3 linked regions of the Homo sapiens genome follow. The protein of the gene in region 3 interacts with the protein of the main gene of each other region in a biochemical or structural test. Each region holds a gene or a part of one and is shown on either strand. Other genes may lie near its edges.

Region 1 (7,000 bases), on a different chromosome or scaffold from region 3:
CAGGTGGTCCTTGCGCCACACTGGAAGAACTTGACCCCAGCCATATTGTTGAGGCAACACTTGAGAAGGCTCTGTGAGCCATCATTAGCCCCGGAGAACATGGTCATTTGTCTCCCTCCTACTCTGTCAAAACTCTAGTCTGTTTTGGGTGTGTGAGGCGGAAGAGGGACCAAAGAAGGCAGGTTCCACCTTTCCAGGGCGCAGCTCCTTAGTGCAAGCATCTCTAGCTCCATAGAGTTGGGGGTGGAATTTACTGGAAAAGCAAAGGTTGGGAGAGGGACAGGAAAGGTGCCCTGCACCCCTGAGCTACTGAGAAAGGACAGGGCAGAGTCATGTCATCCATCACCCTAGCATCAACCTGGGCTTGCCTCTTCTGCCCCCAACTTCTTTCAATCAAGACATCCTTAGGATAAGGGATCCGACTTACCTAGGAGCGTCCTAGGGGCCTCTGCTGGGTCTTCTGGAGTGGAGCTTCCACCTCCTCCGTCCTCCATGATGGGGATGGAGTAGATGGCCCCACGGGATTCACTCTCTGTGGCTTCCTGAGGCAGCTGCAGTTCCTCCAGGGTCTCTGTCACTGTGACGATAGCCTCTAGTCCATCAGAGGCTGGGTTGGAGGCTGGGTTGGAGGCCTCAGGGATGGCAGAAGGCTGGGCCGAGTCTGTGGCAGGAGGAAAGTATTGATGCGAGCCTGAATAGGTAGCTCTGCCCTCCCAGGTCACAGCTTGCACCATGGAATTCTCTCAATTCTCTCACATCTTCCCTGTGGAGCACCTACTGGGGCCCAGGGAGCATCCCAGAACTTCGTCACTCATTTCTCAAGCATTCATCAAGTGCCTACAGTGTGTCATGCCAAGCATTCCCCTGGGCACTGAGGATACAGTGCAGAACAAAATAGCAAACCTCCTACCCTCAAGGGAAATTATATTCTAGAACAGATGACAAACAAACATATATTATAATCTTACAAGATAAAGAACACTTGAGCAGAGTTAGAAGATGGAGTGATGGAAAATACTACTTTGGAGTGGTCAGGAAAGGCTCAGGTGAGAGATATTCCCTAGGGGGAGGGGCTGGAGCCAGCAGGATGGATGAAATAGCTTTACCACCTTGTGATCTTGGGCTTGGGGCAAGGTGTGAGGTGTCCCAGGTATCCCCAAATTCTTTTATTTTTTAGACAGAGTCTCCTTCTGTCACCCAGGCTGGAGTGCAGTGGCACGATCCCAGCTCATTGCAACCTTCGCCTCCTGGATTCAAGCGGTTCTCCCGTCTCAGCCTCCCAAGTAGCTGGGACTACAGGCATGTGCCACCGTAACTGGCTAATTTTTGTATTTTTAGTAGAGACAGGGTTTCCCCGTGTTTGCCAGGCTGATCTCGAACTCCTGGCCTCAAGTGGTCTTGGCCTCCCAAAGTGCTGGGATTACAGGCATGAGCCACTGCACCGAGCCTCCAAAATTCTTGAAATAGAAGGGGAGAGGCTGTCATCCCCTCAGGATAGCTGGAGGGCAGAGTGCAGGAATAACTTCAGGCATCACCTGAGGATCTCAGTGGTGGGGCAAGTAGGCAAGGGAAAAGGCCACCTCCTTCTGGGACCTACTCCTTTCAAATAACCAGAAGTTTAGAATGGTTTACTTGTCCTCTGGGGAAGGGAGCCAAGAGCAGAAAACCAATGAAGTGAAGGTGGAATTGGGCTAAGAAAAGTCCTGAGGGCTGTCTGTGCTCAGCCAGGCAAGACAGGACAGTGAGTCCCTGCCCTCATCACCTGCTCCAGTGAGCCTTACTCCTCACCAGACCTTGTGTCCTTGCTGCCTGTGTCCTCCACCAATCGTAGTCCCAACTGTAGTCATATTCCCCCTCCCCTGCCCCTCCTCATGATCCAGGCCATTTCTTTCCAAAACAGTGCTTGGCTTGGCACACAATCATAGCCAGCACACAGAAGTTTTAGCTATTACTATTATTATTATTACTACTACTACTACTACTACTACTACCCCTGTTCCAGGAGGTCTTTTCAGATGGACCTGTCTTCCTATGGACTTTTACTTCCCCACCCCTCCCCAACCCCAGCCAAATATGTCCACAGATCTGTCCAAATGGAAGTAATGCTTTTCTCTCAGTCTCTCCTCATCCTGGGAGTGAGGCATCTTGTCTTCCCTTTGCTGGGGGTTCCCATGGCAAAAGCTGTGTCTTCATCCTTCAGACCAAGTGCTCCCTGAGGTTCAAGGCTGTGTCTGCTCCTTCCATTTCTGCTTCCAGCTCTTGTAACAGTATTTCAGGCTTAAAACTGGGGAAGGACCGAGACACCGCATGGCAATGCCTCTCTTATTGTCGGTCACCCTTGGCCTGGGCCTTTTGCATCTGAGAGTCCCAGAAACTGCCTCCCGCTCCAGCTCCCAACATAAGATATGGGCAGGTTTGGGTGCAGTGGCTCACACCTATAAATCCCAGCACTTCGGGAGTCCAAGATAGGTAGATTGCTTGAGCTCAGGAGTTCAAGACCAGCCTGGGCATGTGGTGAAACCCCATCTCTACAAAAATTACAAAAATTTGCTAGACATGGTGGCATAAGCCTGTGGTCCCACCTACTCCGGAGGTTGAAGTGGAAGGATCCCCTGAGCCCAGGGAGGTTGAGGCTACAATGAACCATGATCACACCACTGCACTCCAGCCTGGGGGACGGAGTGAGACCCTGTCTCAAAAAAAGAAACAAGCCATAAGATGTGGGCAGAAAGCTATCTCTATTCCCAACTGTACTTAAGGTCTTGCTCCCTTTTGGGGGAATTGTATCCATCCACCAGTATTTGGTAGTTAAAGATCTGACACCTTCTTAAGCTGTAGTTTCTGGAAATCCTCCAGAGGGCTCCTGAGGGCATTTGGTTGTTGACTGGAAGAACTTGGGCAGATTACTCATTGAATTCACAGAATGTTGGTCGTCTTTGCTCTGCCAATAAGCTGACAGGAGATGGGAGCTTATTCAGCAGCCCAGCTGGAGCAAACAAGGCATGGACTACTGGTGGGAAGGCAGATAAGGAGAGGCCAAAAGGTGACTACTCCTTGGGCCAAACAGCTGACAGACACCACACCAGAGGGCATGCCCAGAATTAGAACCCTAGATGACAAGCTGGACTTCACCCACGACCACTTCAGGCAAATGGCAAAGCCCTGAGCTAAACTGATCAGACTGGGGTAGGACTTTTAGGACTCAACTCTGCCTTTCTGAGATTGGTCTCAGCTTCTGCAGGGAGGTGGGCTCACCTCGGAAGCAGTAGACGTTGAAGCGGCTGTGCTTATTGGGGAAGCCAGTCTGGTTGGGGAAGAGGAAGAGAGTCTTGACACCAGGCAAGCCCCCACCACAGCGCTGGCTGGGTGTGACGATGGGGTAGCGCACACTGCCATCAGCTAGCCACCCTGGGCTGCAGTGGTCCAGGCCACCATCCCAGGCTGCATACAGTTGGCCCGTGGTGGCAATCTCTGCACCCCGCTCCTGGCAGTACGCCCGTGCTTCCTCCAATGTCAGCTTCTCTGGAGGGTCACCCAGGAACAGTTCTCCTGGGTGGAGAAGAGAAGGCTGGGTTATCAGGCAGCTGGTAGCTCCTTCCACTCTGGTCTCCCATGGGAACCCTGGGCAAGCTTCTCCAGTTCCCTCATCTGTGGCAGGGAGTCAACTACTCTACTTCATAGGATCATAGTCTGAATAGAACCTCAAGATGGATATTAGAGCTCAAAGAGATGGGGCCCAAACTTCTTGTTCTGCAGAGTCATGCACAGAGTCCACCTGGCAGGTGGTAGATGAGTTAAACTCGGTATCCTGCTGCCTGGCTGAGACTTTGGTCATGAGCTTGCCTCTGTGACAGTGTTTGGAGAGAGGGACACCAATTGTCTCCTTACTCCTGCTTGCCCCCTTAAACTCAGGAGGGATAGTAAGGTCCTGCAGAGGCCCCGGGAGGACCTATGGGCAGCATGGGAGTAGGAAATTGTCCCCTGGGAACCTCTCACTCCTAATCACCATTTAGGTCTTCAGCATAACAGTACACATCATAGAGGTCATCCGGGTCCACCACACCATAGTTCCGGACCCCGGGGAAGCCATCCATGTCTCCGTAACAGGCCTCTCGTGGGGTCTGGATGGGATACCTAGGGAGGAAGGACAGAATCACTTAGTACAGATGCTTTCACCAGGGAGCCAGCCCATATTGATTCTATTGAACCCCACTGCCACCACAGTGCAGACACTTGCTGACAGCTGGCTGTCCTTCTAGCACTGCAGGGATGCACATGCTCAGGGTCCTCACCTCCCCTCCTCAGACCAGCCTCATCCCCCAGAGGCAAAAAGCCCTGCATGTCCAGCCTGACACAGCAGGCAGCACCCAGCAGAAGGGGGGCCATGGCCACCTCAGGGGCCAATAGAAGCCCCAATCCACAGCCCCTGCCCACCTCACGGTCTGATCCGACAGCCAGCCAGCATCACATTGCTCATAGCCCCCAAGGTAGGCGGCATAGAGCTGCTCCGGGGTGGCGATGTGGGCTCCAATGCGGGCACAGGCCTCCTGGGCCCCAGAAAAGGAGAAAGCATAGCGGGCAGAGCCCTCTCGGTAGAGAAAGACGACCCCTGTGGGGCAGAGAGGACCCCTGAGCCAGGTGAGCACCCAGCACGCTGGCCTCCCCTCACCCTCCTTGTCACTCCTCTGTACACAAGGGTAAATAAAGTTCAATTGTGCTCACTCTACAGCATGAGGGACTTAAGTTAGATTGTGGGTAGAATGTCCTCCACCTGAAGAGAGAAAGGAGACAACAAAGGCCCGTGTCTCCTCACTCTTTTTCCAACCCAGGCTGCGCCTTCCAGCTACCTTTGCTTCCCTCTCACACTGTGGGATCCCCGAAGGCAAGAGTCCTCCCTTCCCTCCCTCCCTCCCTCCCTCTGGAACCTCCCTGCCCTCTCACCTTTGACCTTGACCTCCACAGCGTCGCTGCTGTCATCGATGCCGTGCTGGACCTCACAGCGATAGATACCTGAGTCGTTGGGGCGCAGCTCGCTCAGCGCCAGGGAGACGTCGGTGAGCGACGCTGGGTACGCAGGCAGTGCCACGCGGAACCGGTAGGCCTCGTTCACCTTGACGCGCACTCCCCGCGCCACCAGCACCTCTGCCTCCCGGCCCCGGGACAGGAAAGTCCACTTGACCCGCGGAGAGCCCAGCACAGCCCGGCGGCTCGGCGGTGGCCGCAGGTAGTGGACGTGGCAAGGGATGGTGAGGGCGCCGCCGAGCACGCCCTGCAGTGGCGCGTCGCCCGCGATGCGCACGCGAAAAGCGCGGTCCTCTGTGAACGGGTGGAGCCGGCTGGAACTTAACGCTGTCGACCCTCAGAGTCCCACCCGGTGGCCTCCAAGCCCCGCTCCAGGATCCCTCCTTCCGGCCCCAGGATTCCCCGGCCCCCCTAGGACCAGGGGCCAGGGGCCAGGGGCCAGGGTCCTGCAGCCCTACCTCTAGGTCCTCCAGGACCACCCCGACGGTCTCCAGACCCATCCCCCAAAGTCTCCCAGTCAATTCAGCCCCCAGGATTCCTTGCCCTGCTCTCAGAGTCTTCCACTTCCTCTCCAAAATTCCTAGACCACACCCCAGGGTCCTCCAACCTCGCCCCCTGAGTCCTCCAGCCCAGTTTCCCAGTCTGCTCCCTTTAGGGCCTCCTTCAGGGTTTCTCCCAGTTCCACCCCTTTCCCACCTCCTAGCTTCAGGATCCCCTATCCTCCACCTTAGGGGCCCAAAGCCTTGCACCCAGTGCCCTTCCCTAGTCCTGCCCCATGATTTCTCCAACCCACCAGATGCTCACAGCTCAGCCCTTATTTCCAAGTGTTCCAGCCTGGACGCTTCCCCACAGCCCTCCAATTCTCTCTCTTCCTGGGGCCCCTAAGCCTGGAAGCAGTTGGTTAGGGCTGAACAAGACAGAGACGGTGACCCCAAGTGGGGTTGCTTACCTGAGCTGTCTCCTTCCAGAACATCTGCTAAAGCTGCAGGAGCCTGGGCCAGGACCAGGGCTGCCAGCAGGGGCAGGAACAGCTGGGCCATGCTGCAGGCTGACAGAGGGACATGAGAAGGAAAGATGGGGTTAGACTTCAGGATGGACTTCCCCCCTGCTCCCTACCACACCCATGTGGGTTCACACATATCCTGGCTCCAGAAGTCCCCTACCTTCACATCACCATGGACTCTCTGTTTCTGATCCCCATCTTCCCAGCAAGTGATTTCTTCTCAGAACCAAAACCCGAGTCCTAGTCAACTCACTGTGTGACCTAAGCCAAGCTCCTTACCTTCTCTGAGCCTTTATTTTCTTACTTATAAAAAAGCATCATCATTACTATCTCATGAGTTGAGATAGGACCATGTGCTTTGAGAGTGTTTAGTATCTTAAAACTCCTGTACAAATGCATAGCACCAGGCAGACAGTAGGAGCTCAGTTTACAGCATGAATGGTGGGTGCTCTTATACTCAGAATTCCATCTGCTCCTCCCAGTGCCAGACTCCTTCCTCGAACCCAGAGCCTTCTCCCATAGTATCTCTTTAGCCTCTTCTGCCTTCTAGACTGTCCCTGCCTCCAGGGACACCATACTCACCTGGCCTTTTCCAGGAGGGCCTCCTAGACCGAACGCAAGTAAGCACAGCTTCTCCTGAGCCCACCCTCTCCTCTACTTCCTCCCCACCATTATTTGTAAGGAAACTCCTCTCTTTACTCCCCAACATTCTCCATCCCCCTTCCTTGGCTGCCTCCTCCCTTCTTCTTCCCAGCCTCTCCTTTCTGCCTGGCACGGGCTTTCCCACCGGAACTCTTGGCTCAGAAATCAGTTGGGACAAAGCCCCTGTCTCTGCCAGTCTGGCCTCTATCCAGCCCCTCCCTTCCCCCACCCTACCTTTTGTGAAAGCCTTGGGCTGGAGGGTGGACTAAGGGGGGGGAGAATAAATGGGAGGGGCTACCCCTTCCTACCCCTGGCTATCAGAAGCTCTAGAAC
Region 2 (7,344 bases), on a different chromosome or scaffold from region 3:
AATTATTTATGGTTTTAAATTACACATCTCAAAGGCAGTGGCTTTTTGTTTATTGGTTTTAAAGAGGGAGGCCTGGTGACCCTCCACTCCTCTTTCTTTTTTCCTCTTTTTGAGATGAAGTTTCGTGCTTGTCGGCCAGGCTGGAGTGCAGTGGTGTGATCTGGGCTCACTGCAACCTCTGCCTCCCGGGTTCAAGCGATTCTCCTGCCTCAGCCTCCCAAGTAGCTGGGACTACAGATGCCCGCCACCATGCTAGGCTAATTTTTGAATTTTTAGTAGAGACGGGGTTTTCCTATGTCAGCCAGGCTGGTTTCGAATTCCTAACCTCAGGTGATCCGCCCGTCTTGGCCTCCCAACGTACTGGGATTACAAGGGTGAACCACAGCGCCCGGCCCTCCACTCCTCTTTCTTATCTCCCTCCTCAGCCTCCGCCCCTCCCAGCTTCTGATGTGTCCCTGGGTCCTGGTACCCAGGAAGCCGCCCCCCACCCCACCCCCTAGGTGGCCCTTGGCGCCCCCAGGCAGTCCTGCCCTGACCTGGACCACCGCTGCGCTCACCTTGGGCTGGAAGGGGCTGGGTCCCCAGTCCCCCTCCTTGGCCGCACACCCACTCAGGGCAGCACTTGCCCAGGACCTCGACCCTCCTGGGGTGGGGGCAGTCCCAGCTGGGCAGCCGCACATCCTCGCTGCACAGCGGCACGCAGGTGAAGCCGCCGTCCTCGCAGCGGCAGCGGATGCTGCAGTGGGGCTGGAAGGTCTCCCCTTCCCGATACAGGCGGCCGTTCACCTCACAGCTGCTGTCGTCCTCTGCCACTGCGGAGGAAAAACCGCACCCCCATCGGTGACCCGCAAAGCGGCACAGCCTTCTCTGCAGAGCTGCCCAGATCCCGCTGCCTGAGGCAGCTGCCTCACAGTAGCTGGGCCCTGCCCAGGGCTCCAGCCCAGGATATGCACCTCTCCCCAGCCCTCCACCAGCCTGCTGGGGCACCCTGGATCCCGGCACAGGGATTGCAAGAAGACAGGCCTGGATTGACCCCCCAAACTCTGCCCTTTCTTAGCTGTGAACCTGGGCCAAGTGATTTCACTTCTTCTTGCCTCAGTTTCCACATTTGCAAGCTGGGATATAATGGTACTTATTTTCCAGGGTGGTAGAGACTACTCGGAATGATAGGCGTAATGATCACAACATAAAAGAGACCTTCCATAGGTCCTAGCTACTCTGTTATTATCATTAGTATAGTTACTATATATTAATAAAGTTTAAGTATTCTATACACGCTGAGATTTCATGCAACAAAGTCGTTGTCCACTTGTGCTGTCATCACTGTCAGGTCAGGGCTTAACTTGCTGGCTGTGTGTCTTTGAGTAAGTTACTTAACTTCTCTGAGTGGCCTGAACTACAGCAATGATGAGCTCAGTAATCGTAACTTCAGGTTCCATGGGATGACATGTCCGTACCCTCTAGCACACAGTGCTAGGCATGGCCTAGGTGCTCAGGGAACACTCTTTCAATGAAGCCCTCAAGATATGGGTGTTATTGCCACTTCCTCCACTGGACATGAACTCCTTGAGGGCTGGGGCGGCCAGTGTGCGTCTCTGCACCCTCCGGTGGGCTCAGAGCCTAGGTGCGACACACAGTACTGTAGGAATGCCCCTTCAGTGAATAGCTGGCATAAGCCTTGGCACATGAGAGACCCTGATAAAATAGCCCTACTCCTTATCATTCCAGAGATATTTACTGTTTCCCGCCTGTGTGCCAACCACTGTGCTCCCAGACAGAAAGAGGACAGTTCCTGCCTTGAGGGACTCATGGGCTTGGGAAAGGGGGACGGGTGTGAGGGCATCATCTCCAAGACAGAATGAAGTAAGAGCGCTGGTGAAGCGTGTGAGCTGCTCAGGAAGTGCAGACGGGAAACAGCGTGTGTGTGAGACCTGGGTGGCCACTGAGCTACGTCTGGGGAAAGGACTCATTAGCAAACAAGTTCTCCCAGATCTTCTGAGAAAACCTTCCAGTAGGTCTGTACACACACAGGGGTTTCAGAACCAAAACCACACATACTTAGGTTCCAACTCTGGCTCCCACTTGTGGGGCCTGGGGCAAGTTATTTTGCCTCTCTGAGCCTTGGTACCCGGCTCACAGGGCTGCTGGGGGATTAGATGAGCTAGGGGACTTACAGCATTTTGCCCCAAGCCTGGCACATAGCAGATGCTCAATAAACAGGAGAGGGTTATGCTTCCACGTAGCATCTGCTATGTGCCAGGCTTGGGGCAAAATGCTGTAAGTCCCCTAGCTCATCTAATCCTCCAGCAGGGAAGGCCTTGCTGAGAAATAATGCTGGTAGAGGGAACAGCCAGTGCAAAGGCCCTGAGGCACGAGTGTGCCTGGGGTATTTAAGGAACAGCAAGGGGCCAATGTGGCTGGAGCAGAGAGCAGGAGGAGAGGAGGTCAGAGAGGAAGCATGAACAGGATCCTGTTGGGGCCTTGTAGGCCACTGTGGGGACTTTGGCTTTTCCTCTGAGATGGGAAGCCACCAGAAGGCTTGGGGCAGAGGAGGGAGGTGATCTGGCTTATGACTTCCCAGGAGCTCTCTGACTGCTGTGTTGTGAATAGACCAGGGGCAACGACAGAAGGAGGGAGATGATTATGGGGCTACTGCAAAATCCAGGCCAATGATGACGGGGCTCAGACCAGAAGGGATGGGAGTGTCGGATGCTGGAAATACACGATGAATTTGCTGGTGGGTGGTATGTGGGAGGTGAGAAAAGAGAGATGTCTAGACCGGCTGTGGTGGCTCATACCTATAATCCCAGCACTTAGGGAGGCCGAGGCGGGTGGATCACTTGAGGTCAGGAGTTCCAGACCAGCCTGGCCAACATGGTGAAACCCCGTCTCTACTGAAATACTAAAATACAAAAATTAGCGAGGCATGGTGGTATGTGTCTGTAATCCCAGCTACTTGGGAGGCTGAGGCGTGAGAATCGCTTGAACGCAAGAGATGGGGTTACAGTGAGCTGAGATCCTGCCACTGCACACCAGCCTGGGTGAAAGAGTGAGACTCCATCTCAAAAAAAAAAAAAAAAAAAAGAGAGAGAGATAGAGAGACCTCTAGAACGACTCCCAGGTCTTGAGTCTGAGCCATGAGAAGGATGGAGGTGCTCTCAACAGACTGGGGAGGCCGTTCTGGGGGGCGGAAGATCAGGATCCCGGCATTGGATGCGCTGTTATCACGATGGTGAATCTGCAGCACATCTCACAGCTCAGAGTTGGCCCTTAGAGAAGAGCGTTCAACGAGTAAGTGATGGGAGAGGTTTTTGGCAGTATGTTCCCTGCAAAGCCCTAGACTGAGCCTTTGTGATGTCTTAGCTGGACTCTTTGGGGTTCACCAGTTCCCGGCCTCTAAATTCAGTTTAAATCATTAAACACTGTTGAGCACCCATCATGTTGACAGACCAAGGTGGGAAGTTGCAGGAAGGACCAGGGACCCAAGTACGCCTTTGGCCTGCAGGTGTTTGAAGTCTGAATTAAGATGGAATAAGAAAAATCCCTTAATACAGTTATTAACAATCACAGCCTATGTACTAATCAACTGCTGCATGTCAGGCAGTTGAGCAATGGAGCTTGTGGAGCCAGCTCCCTGAGTTCAAATCTCAGCTCTGCCGCTTATGAGCTGTGTGACCTTGGGCAAGTTGCTTAGCCTCTCTGTACCCCTTTTTTCCATTTATAAGAGAAGGGTACCTACCTCATGTGGTTGTGAGATTAAATGAGTTTATATTTGTGAAACCCTCAGTGTCTTACACGTGGTAAGGGCTGTGCAAGTGTAAAATAAACTCTGTGGGTGCTGTTTACACGTGTCACAGCAAATGTAAATAACAGCTTTGTAAGCGAAGTGTTACTTATCTCAATTGTTCTTCAGATACATTTTCATAAGCAATCATCCCTCAGTCAGTGTAACGAATCACCCTCCTTATCCTTACAGTACTTGTAAATAAAGCATTTCACATGGAGTTATTACTTTTTTTTTTTTTTTTTTTTTTTTTTGGAGATAGGGTTTGGTCTGTTGCCCGGGCTGGAATGTAGTGGCGCAACCATGGCTCACTGCAGCCTCAAACACCCAGGCTCAAGCGAGCCTCTCACCTCAGCCTCTCAAGTAGCTGGGACCACAGGCATGTGCCACCACACCCGGCTAATTTTTTTTTTTTTTTTTTGATAGAGAGAGGATCTTACTATGTTGCCAAGGCTGGACTAGAACTCCTGGGCTCAAGTGGTCGTCCCGCCTCAGTCTCCCAAACTGATAGGATTATAGGCATGAGTCACTGTGCCTGGCCTGTTGTTTTTTAACAAGGCTTTTCCTACAGATGAATTCATTATCAATGATTCATGAGCTTCTCTCTCTCTCTCTTTCGTTCTTATTTTTATAAAAGTGTGACATGCACATAGATGAAAGAGGCAAATTGTTCTACAAGGCTTATTATTAAAAAAGAAAAAAGAAGAACAATCTCTTGCCTCTTTGCATTTCTCTAAAGTGATGGTTCCCAACTGGAGATTTTGCCCCCTGGGGAAATTTGGCACTGTCTGAAGACAGACTGTCATGACTTGGGGGATGGGGAGTGCTGCTGGCATACAGTGGGTGGAGTTCGGGGATGCTGCTAGAAGTCTTACCATGCACAGGACAGCCCTCCCACAACAACTAATTCTCTGGCACCCAGTCACTGGAGCCAGCTTGCAAAGCCCTGCCCCGAAGCATCAGAGAATACCAAGGCCTAGAAGAGTGGTGAGGAATGTCACATGCTCGGGTGACTGCTGAATACATGGCAAACCCAGGATCCCAGCAGTGCTCCGAGGGCCCCCACTATGGGAGAAGACAGAATAAACTGTTCCTTAGAGCCCGTTGGATCTGGTCCCGTGCCGTGTGACATGAAGCATGTCCCTTAATGCTGGTGAACCTGTTTCCTCATTCATAAAATAGGTCTGAAAGTACTTCCCATCATAGGGTTATTGTGAGGATGATGTGACTTGTGTAGTAAGTGCTTAGCACAGTTCTGGACACATATTATGCCCTAAAAGGTTGCACTTTTATTTTCCCCAAAGTGTTGTAAGGATCCTGAGAAGGGAGTGGTGGCATCTGGTTTGAAGAATCTGGGGGGGCTTCTCAGGGGAGAAGCTGTTTGAACTTGGCTTTGAAAGTTGGCAATGATTTGGACAGGTAGGGATGGGGAAAGGTTATTGGGGTAGTGAGATGGTTTAAGCAGAGGCCAAGAAGGGAGAGGAGGGAGTGGGGAGTGGGCTTTGGGACACCAAGTTCAGCTGGAATGGATGGGATACCTGAAGTGAGCACCCAAGGAGGTAGAGAGAGGAGGGCTGCACTTTGATCCAGGACACCACGGCCTTGACCTCCCGCTCACACCCGCCCCCACTCAGTCCTGCAAACCTGCTTACAGAGGCACAGGGCCCCCCGGCCACCGGGTCCTGCCCCGGGCTGGCAGACCAGGCCCTGGCTGGCGTCGCAGACGTGGAGTTGGTCGCAGGGCTCCCCCAGCCGCCGTGCACATACCCGGCAGCAGCCACAGCCATCCAGCACCAGGGGTACTCCCAGCGGGCATCGGGGAGGTGGCCAGGGGCAGGTACATGGTGTCGGGCACAGCTGGGTACGCACCTGAAGAGACAGAGACCTCACTCAGCCACGGGCTTTCGAGGTGGGCAGTGAGACCCTCACAACCAGCCACTTCTCTGCCAGGCTGGGTAGTGTGGTGTCCACACCTTAGCCTCAGAGCCATGCAGACCTGGCCTCAAAGGCCAGTAGTCCCACAACATGCCCTAAGAGGCAGTATGGCATGTAGTTATGGGCAAGGACTCTGGACTAGAGTTCCAGTTCTTTATTTTTTATTTTTATTTTTGGAGTCAGAGTCTGGCTCTGTTGCCCAGGCTGGAGTGCAGTGGCGCGATCCCAGCCTCACTTCAACCTCCACCTCCTGGGTTCAAGCGACTCTCGTGCCTCAGCCTCCCGAGTAGCTGGGACTACAGGCGCCCACCACCATGCCTGGCAATTTTTGTATTTTTAATAGAGATGGGGTTTCACCATGTTACCCAGGCTGGTCTTGAAATCCTGAGCTCAGGCAATCCGCCCGCCTCGGCCTCCCAAAGTGCTGGGATTATAGGCATGAGCCACTGCACCTGGCTAGACTTCCAGTTCTAATTCTGCCCCTTATTAGCTGAGTGACCTTGAGGAAGTTACTTAAGCATTCTGAGCCTCAGTTTCCTCAAAGTATCTAACTCAGAGGATTGCTCTGAGGAGTACATGAAATGCTGCACAGCAAACCCTCAGCACAGGGCCTGGCATGCAGTAGGCGCTCACTGCACTTAGCTTTGATGATCCTTGTTGTTAATGGTGGCAGAGGGCTCAGCCCCAGCCCTCTGGGAGCTTACAGAAAGGCAAAAGCAACAAGTCAAGGATGAAAATGGTAGGGTCTGGTACATTTTCCAGCATACGGATACTTATCTTAGGACTGAATAAATTGAACCATATCATGGATGTTTTTGGCCTTTCGATCCATTCAGCATGTGTCCCAGCTCTGGAGGTACATCACATCAGCCAGGAGACTTGGGAAAATACAGACCCCCAACCCACTCTGGGGCTTACAAAATCAGAAGTCCCAGAGTCAGGGACCTGGAATCTTTATTTTTAATAAGCTGTCCAGTGGCTTCTGAAGCTCAGCTAGGTTTTCAGCACCTCTGCCCCAGTCTAACCTCCTCCCCCTGCCAGGTACGGATGGGGAAACTGAGCTCCAGAGAGGGACAGGAACTTAGCACACGTCAGTGTGTTCGATTCAGGGCTGGGAGCGTCCCCGGTCCTGCTTCCCAAGTGAGGACTCAGGGACACGGGATGGGGGTAGACTGTGTCCGTAAGCCAGGGACCCACTCCCCAGAGACAGGATCAGGGTATCAGCCCATGTGGCCTGCCTGACCCTCGCCACCCACATCAGAGAAACAACCAAAGCATACAGCAGGTGCCGTGAGCTCCCTGTCTGCCCATTTGAAGGTGGGGACCAAGAAGGAAGTATAATTCAAGATGCTTCCAGTGGCCCCATCTTTGGGGGGCCAAGTTTGAGTTTAGTAGGATCCTTAGGGGATGAGGGTTTCATCTAGAGGAATGGAGGCTTGCAGTTTATAATGATGGAATTAATGACCTCATATCTCCTGTGCAGCCCCAAAGCAGGCAATGACCCCTTTGCTCTGCCTCACCCTCTGCCCCGCCCAGTGCCCCCACTACCCACAATCCTGCAAACCTGCTTTCAGTTCCCGGCAACTCCCACGCCGGCCACTAGGAGCCATTGCAAACTGGCTGAC
Region 3 (3,994 bases):
AAAAGAGATAGAAACAATGACATCAGGCTCACTGAGGAGGTCACCTGTAGAGTTCACTCCTTACGCACCTTCCTCACCAGCCCCATCATAAGAGGCCAGAAGCAATATATATACTATCAATCAGACTATCGGAGCCAGAAAGGGCCTCAGAAAAACCCCAGGCCTTCAATTTCTGTTCAGCAGTAGCTCCAGAATTTCTATGTAGGAGATTAGGAGTGGGTAGACTGGTAGGAAGGAGTAAGGAGCTTATCCATTAATACCAGCTGTGTTTAGAAGCAAGCACAGTATTTCTCCCTTAGCTGTGTTTACCCAGCGTGGTTTTGGGGGTGGTGGAGGGTAGCAGGAGCGGTTTTGAAGGTGGTGGGGGTGTTTTTGAGGGTGGCGGAGGGTGGTGAGATTCTGGTTTGAGAGCTAAAGCTCCTCTGCTAGGCTATCCTTTGGCCTTGTAGGTCCCTAATAGCTATGGGACCCTGGAAAAATCACTTCTCTTGAGCCATCAGTCTCTTCATCAATAAGATTCAACTAATAATGGCCTTTTTTATTTATGTGGTTGGAAAGGTTAAAATAGGTGACACGTGAAAAGTGCCTTGCACATAGAAAGCACTCTATTAATTGAGGGGGATATTATTGTTACTGTTCATTGTTAGTAGTAGCATTAAAACTGATATGATTGCTAATGAAGAAACAGACTTAAAGAGGAAGCAAACCTCGAACAGATGCCACAATAAAGCAACAAAATTGCTGATTCTTCAGGGCTCTTTCTACAGGACAGAGGGACTAGAGCTTACTCTCCCTGAGGTTCTCTTGCTGTTTACTTTGGAAGCTCTGACCTTTCCAGCAGACACCATCACCTGTGCCCTGCAGGGAGCAGAGATTCGGACTTTTTAAGTTTCCGCTTCTGGCTGGGTCTGTGGCCCTTGTCTAGGCTCTGCTAAAACAGATGGCAAACACGGCCACTCAGTAGGTGTCTTTATTCATACTTGTTGACATTTCCCATGGGGAATGGTTGAAGGGAGGGGCAGGGAGGGCTGAGCGGGAAGCCACGGCTTGGTTTTCCTCCATCCAGTGGAGAAGAGACTCGGTAGGGACATGCTAAGTAGAGTGAACAGGGGAACCATCACTATGTGGGCTGAGATGCACTGTGCAGTGACTTCAGACAACCTGAGTCCTTCTGTCAGGAAATGCAATTTCTAAGTGGAAAAAAAAAACAAGACCCAAAGAAAAAAACAAAGTGCATACAAAGCAAACTGCTAATGTAAGAAAGGTTCTAAGGCAGCCAGCAGTGAAAAGCCAGGGGTCTGGAGTGGCCACCTGGCCATGCCCTGTCCCACTGCCCTGTGCCAGGCTGTCGGGCCACCAGTGCCCTCTTGAGACAGTCTCCATTGGCTCCAAGGGTTCTGTGAGCCACAGAAGGTTGTGAAAGGAGAAGAGCCTGAAGTGTGGCAGCACCAGGGCAGCCCAAAGCAGGGCTGCGTTGAAAATATCAAAGTATCTCTTTAGGGGTGGCTCTGAGGGTTGGTGGGATTGGAGGGGGAAGGGGCGCCTGGGAGGAGTACAGTCAGCATCTATTCTTGGGCACCGGGAGGAGCCACTCTCTGGAATCTTAAATTACCAGGTAGGAGTGAGAATGCTGATTAGCTGTAGAGCTGAAGGCACGGCTGCCAGGCCCCTCCGGGTCCTTCTCTAGTTCTCCAGGCCCGGTGTATCGAAGGCAGTGGAGAGGAAGGGCCTGTGGGAGCCAGGGCCAGCTCAGCAGCCTAGCCAGTCGGATTTGATGCTTCCAAACTTCACGCTCTTCAGACTTTGGTTCTCCAGCTTCAGGTAATAGGCACCCTTGAAGAAGTAGCTGTGACCTGGGATAGAGAAAGAAGAGACCGTGACCCCCTTATCCTGACATTCTGGCACACAGAAGGTTCCTGGGAACTTTGAATTTCTGCCTGGCATAGGGAAGAAGCTTTTAAACGAGAAGAGAGCTTTGAAAGGCTGAGGCAGGAGGATTGCTTGAGCCCAGGAGTTCGAGACCAGCTTGGGCAGCATAGAGAGACCCCCATTTCTACGAAAAACATATTTAAATTAGCTGGGTATAGTGGTACATTCCTGTAGTCCAAGCTACTTAGGAGGCTGACGTGGGAGGGTCGCTTAAGCCCAGGAGTTCGAGGCTGCAGTGAGCTATGATTGTGCCTCTAGCCTGGGTGATAGAGCAAGACCTTGTCCCCCCGCCAAAAAAAAAACTCAACTGTGGCGGGGCGCGGTGGCTCACGCCTGTAATCCCAGCACTTTGGGAGGCCGAGACGGGCAGATCACGAAGTCAGGAGATCAAGACCATCCTGGCTAACATGGTGAAACCTCGTCTCTACTAAAAATACAAAAAATTAGCCGGGCGTGGTGGTAGGCGCCTGTAGTCCCAGCTACTCGGGAGGCTGAGGCAGGAGAATGGTGTGAACCCAGTAGGCGGAGCTTGCAGTGAGCCAAGATCGCGCCACTGCACTCCAGCCTGGGCGACAGAGGGAGACTCTGTCTCAAAAAAAAAAAAAAAAAAATTCAATTGTTTCAATCTGAGCTGATTGAAGAAAAGAAAACAAAAACAAAACCAAAACACAACAAAAGCCCAGAAGAGCCCCCTCTGGGAGTGGAAGAAGGGAAATGGCTGTGAAATAAGCTCTTTTATTCCCTGTTTGCTCATCTCTAAGATGAGGATAAAGATTATCAACCTTCTAGGGCTTGCAGTGAGCATTAAGTCAGATAACATATGCTATTATTAAAAACAATAACTCCACTTAACACAAGCATCAAACTAAGCACATTCCATGTACCAGAGGTGGCAAAACAGGATATATCCAGTCCTGTCAGGCCCACAGATGGGTTTTATTTGACTCTCACAAGTTTGTTTTGTTTTGTCTTTAAATCTGAATAACTTGCCAACATGTAAACATCCAAAAAGTCACACAGAAGTACAGATTTCTGGCTTCCTTTAAAAAAACTAGAATATCTAATATAGAATATCTAACAACACCAGGCCCCATTCTTTTTTTTTGAGACCAGGTCTCACTCTGTCACCCAGTCTGGAATGCAGCGGCATGAACACGGCTCACTGCAGCCTTAAACTCCTGGGCTCAAGCGATCCTCTCTGCTCACCCTCCCCAGTAGCTGGGACTACAGGTATGCGCCGTCATGTGTAGCTAATGTTTTTTAAAATTTTTTTGTAGAGATAGAGTCTCACTATGTTGCCCAGGCTGGTCTCAAACTCCTGCGCTCAAGCAGTTCTCCTGCCTTGGCCTCCCAGAGTGCTGGGATGACAGGTGTGAACCATGGCAGCTGCCTAGGCCCCTAATCTTGCCCGCCAATAATTATCTGAAGGTGAGAAGAAAGTGTCTCCTGTAAATGAGGCATGTGCTCTGATTCCGCACAGACTCCACAGTTCCCCACTGTCTGCCCCTGCCTGCTTTACTCATTTGTGCTACCTGCCTGACACATGGAGCTGTTGGAGTTTGTGACTCCTGACATACATAATCTCATTTACTATTAATATGCTAGCATGTAGTAGGTGCTCAATAGATGTTTATTCTTGAAGATAACTCCTAATCTAGCATCTGATTGTACACTGCATTTTCTTGGACATGTAAGACCTTCAGCTACTGGAGGTCAGGGCCTGTGCTTAGCATACAGTAGGTGCTCAAAAAAAAAAAAATCTGTGGAATTTAGTTGAAATCTCCTCTAAAAAAAGCCAAACTGGACCCATTTCCAGGACCCTAGAAAGCTCACAGATGCCTCCTCAAGAGTATGATTTTCAAACTCCAAATTCTATCCCTCGCTGCTACTGGTTGTGTTTTAATCAGCAGGGGGCCAGGGGCAAACTGGTTGAGTGGAGGATCTTTGCCACATGAGCAACAGAGCATGACAAAGTTTGCCTTGTCTCAAATGGAGCCATCCTTCTGCTAATGGGAGGTGGTCACAGGCCTCCTGCAAAACGCAAATGGGCCTGGATCAAACCCCA

What was found.
Region 1: of the proteins of MMP2 (region 3) and BCAN, one has a biochemical effect on the other in vitro, tested with the Homo sapiens proteins (one study listed by BioGRID).
Region 2: of the proteins of MMP2 (region 3) and CCN5, one has a biochemical effect on the other in vitro, tested with the Homo sapiens proteins (one study listed by BioGRID).

What each region holds. Positions count from the first base shown.
Region 1 is NC_000001.11:156,645,117-156,652,116, reverse strand, and holds part of BCAN (brevican core protein isoform 1 precursor), read right to left. Parts: exon of another isoform or gene 6,735-7,000; coding exon of another isoform or gene 6,608-6,734; intron 6,382-6,607; exon of another isoform or gene 6,071-6,381; coding exon of another isoform or gene 6,063-6,070; coding exon 5,972-6,062; exon of another isoform or gene 5,317-5,971; coding exon 4,942-5,316; intron 4,610-4,941; coding exon 4,435-4,609; intron 4,135-4,434; coding exon 4,007-4,134; intron 3,550-4,006; coding exon 3,256-3,549; intron 662-3,255; coding exon 428-661; intron 1-427. UniProt on the Homo sapiens protein: May play a role in the terminally differentiating and the adult nervous system during postnatal development. Could stabilize interactions between hyaluronan (HA) and brain proteoglycans.
Region 2 is NC_000020.11:44,718,206-44,725,549, reverse strand, and holds part of CCN5 (CCN family member 5 isoform 1 precursor), read right to left. Parts: intron 5,654-7,344; coding exon 5,437-5,653; coding exon of another isoform or gene 5,429-5,436; intron 813-5,428; coding exon 558-812; intron 1-557.
Region 3 is NC_000016.10:55,503,198-55,507,191, reverse strand, and holds the end of MMP2 (72 kDa type IV collagenase isoform 1 preproprotein), read right to left. Parts: intron 1,854-3,994; coding exon 1,750-1,853; 3' UTR 501-1,749; downstream 1-500.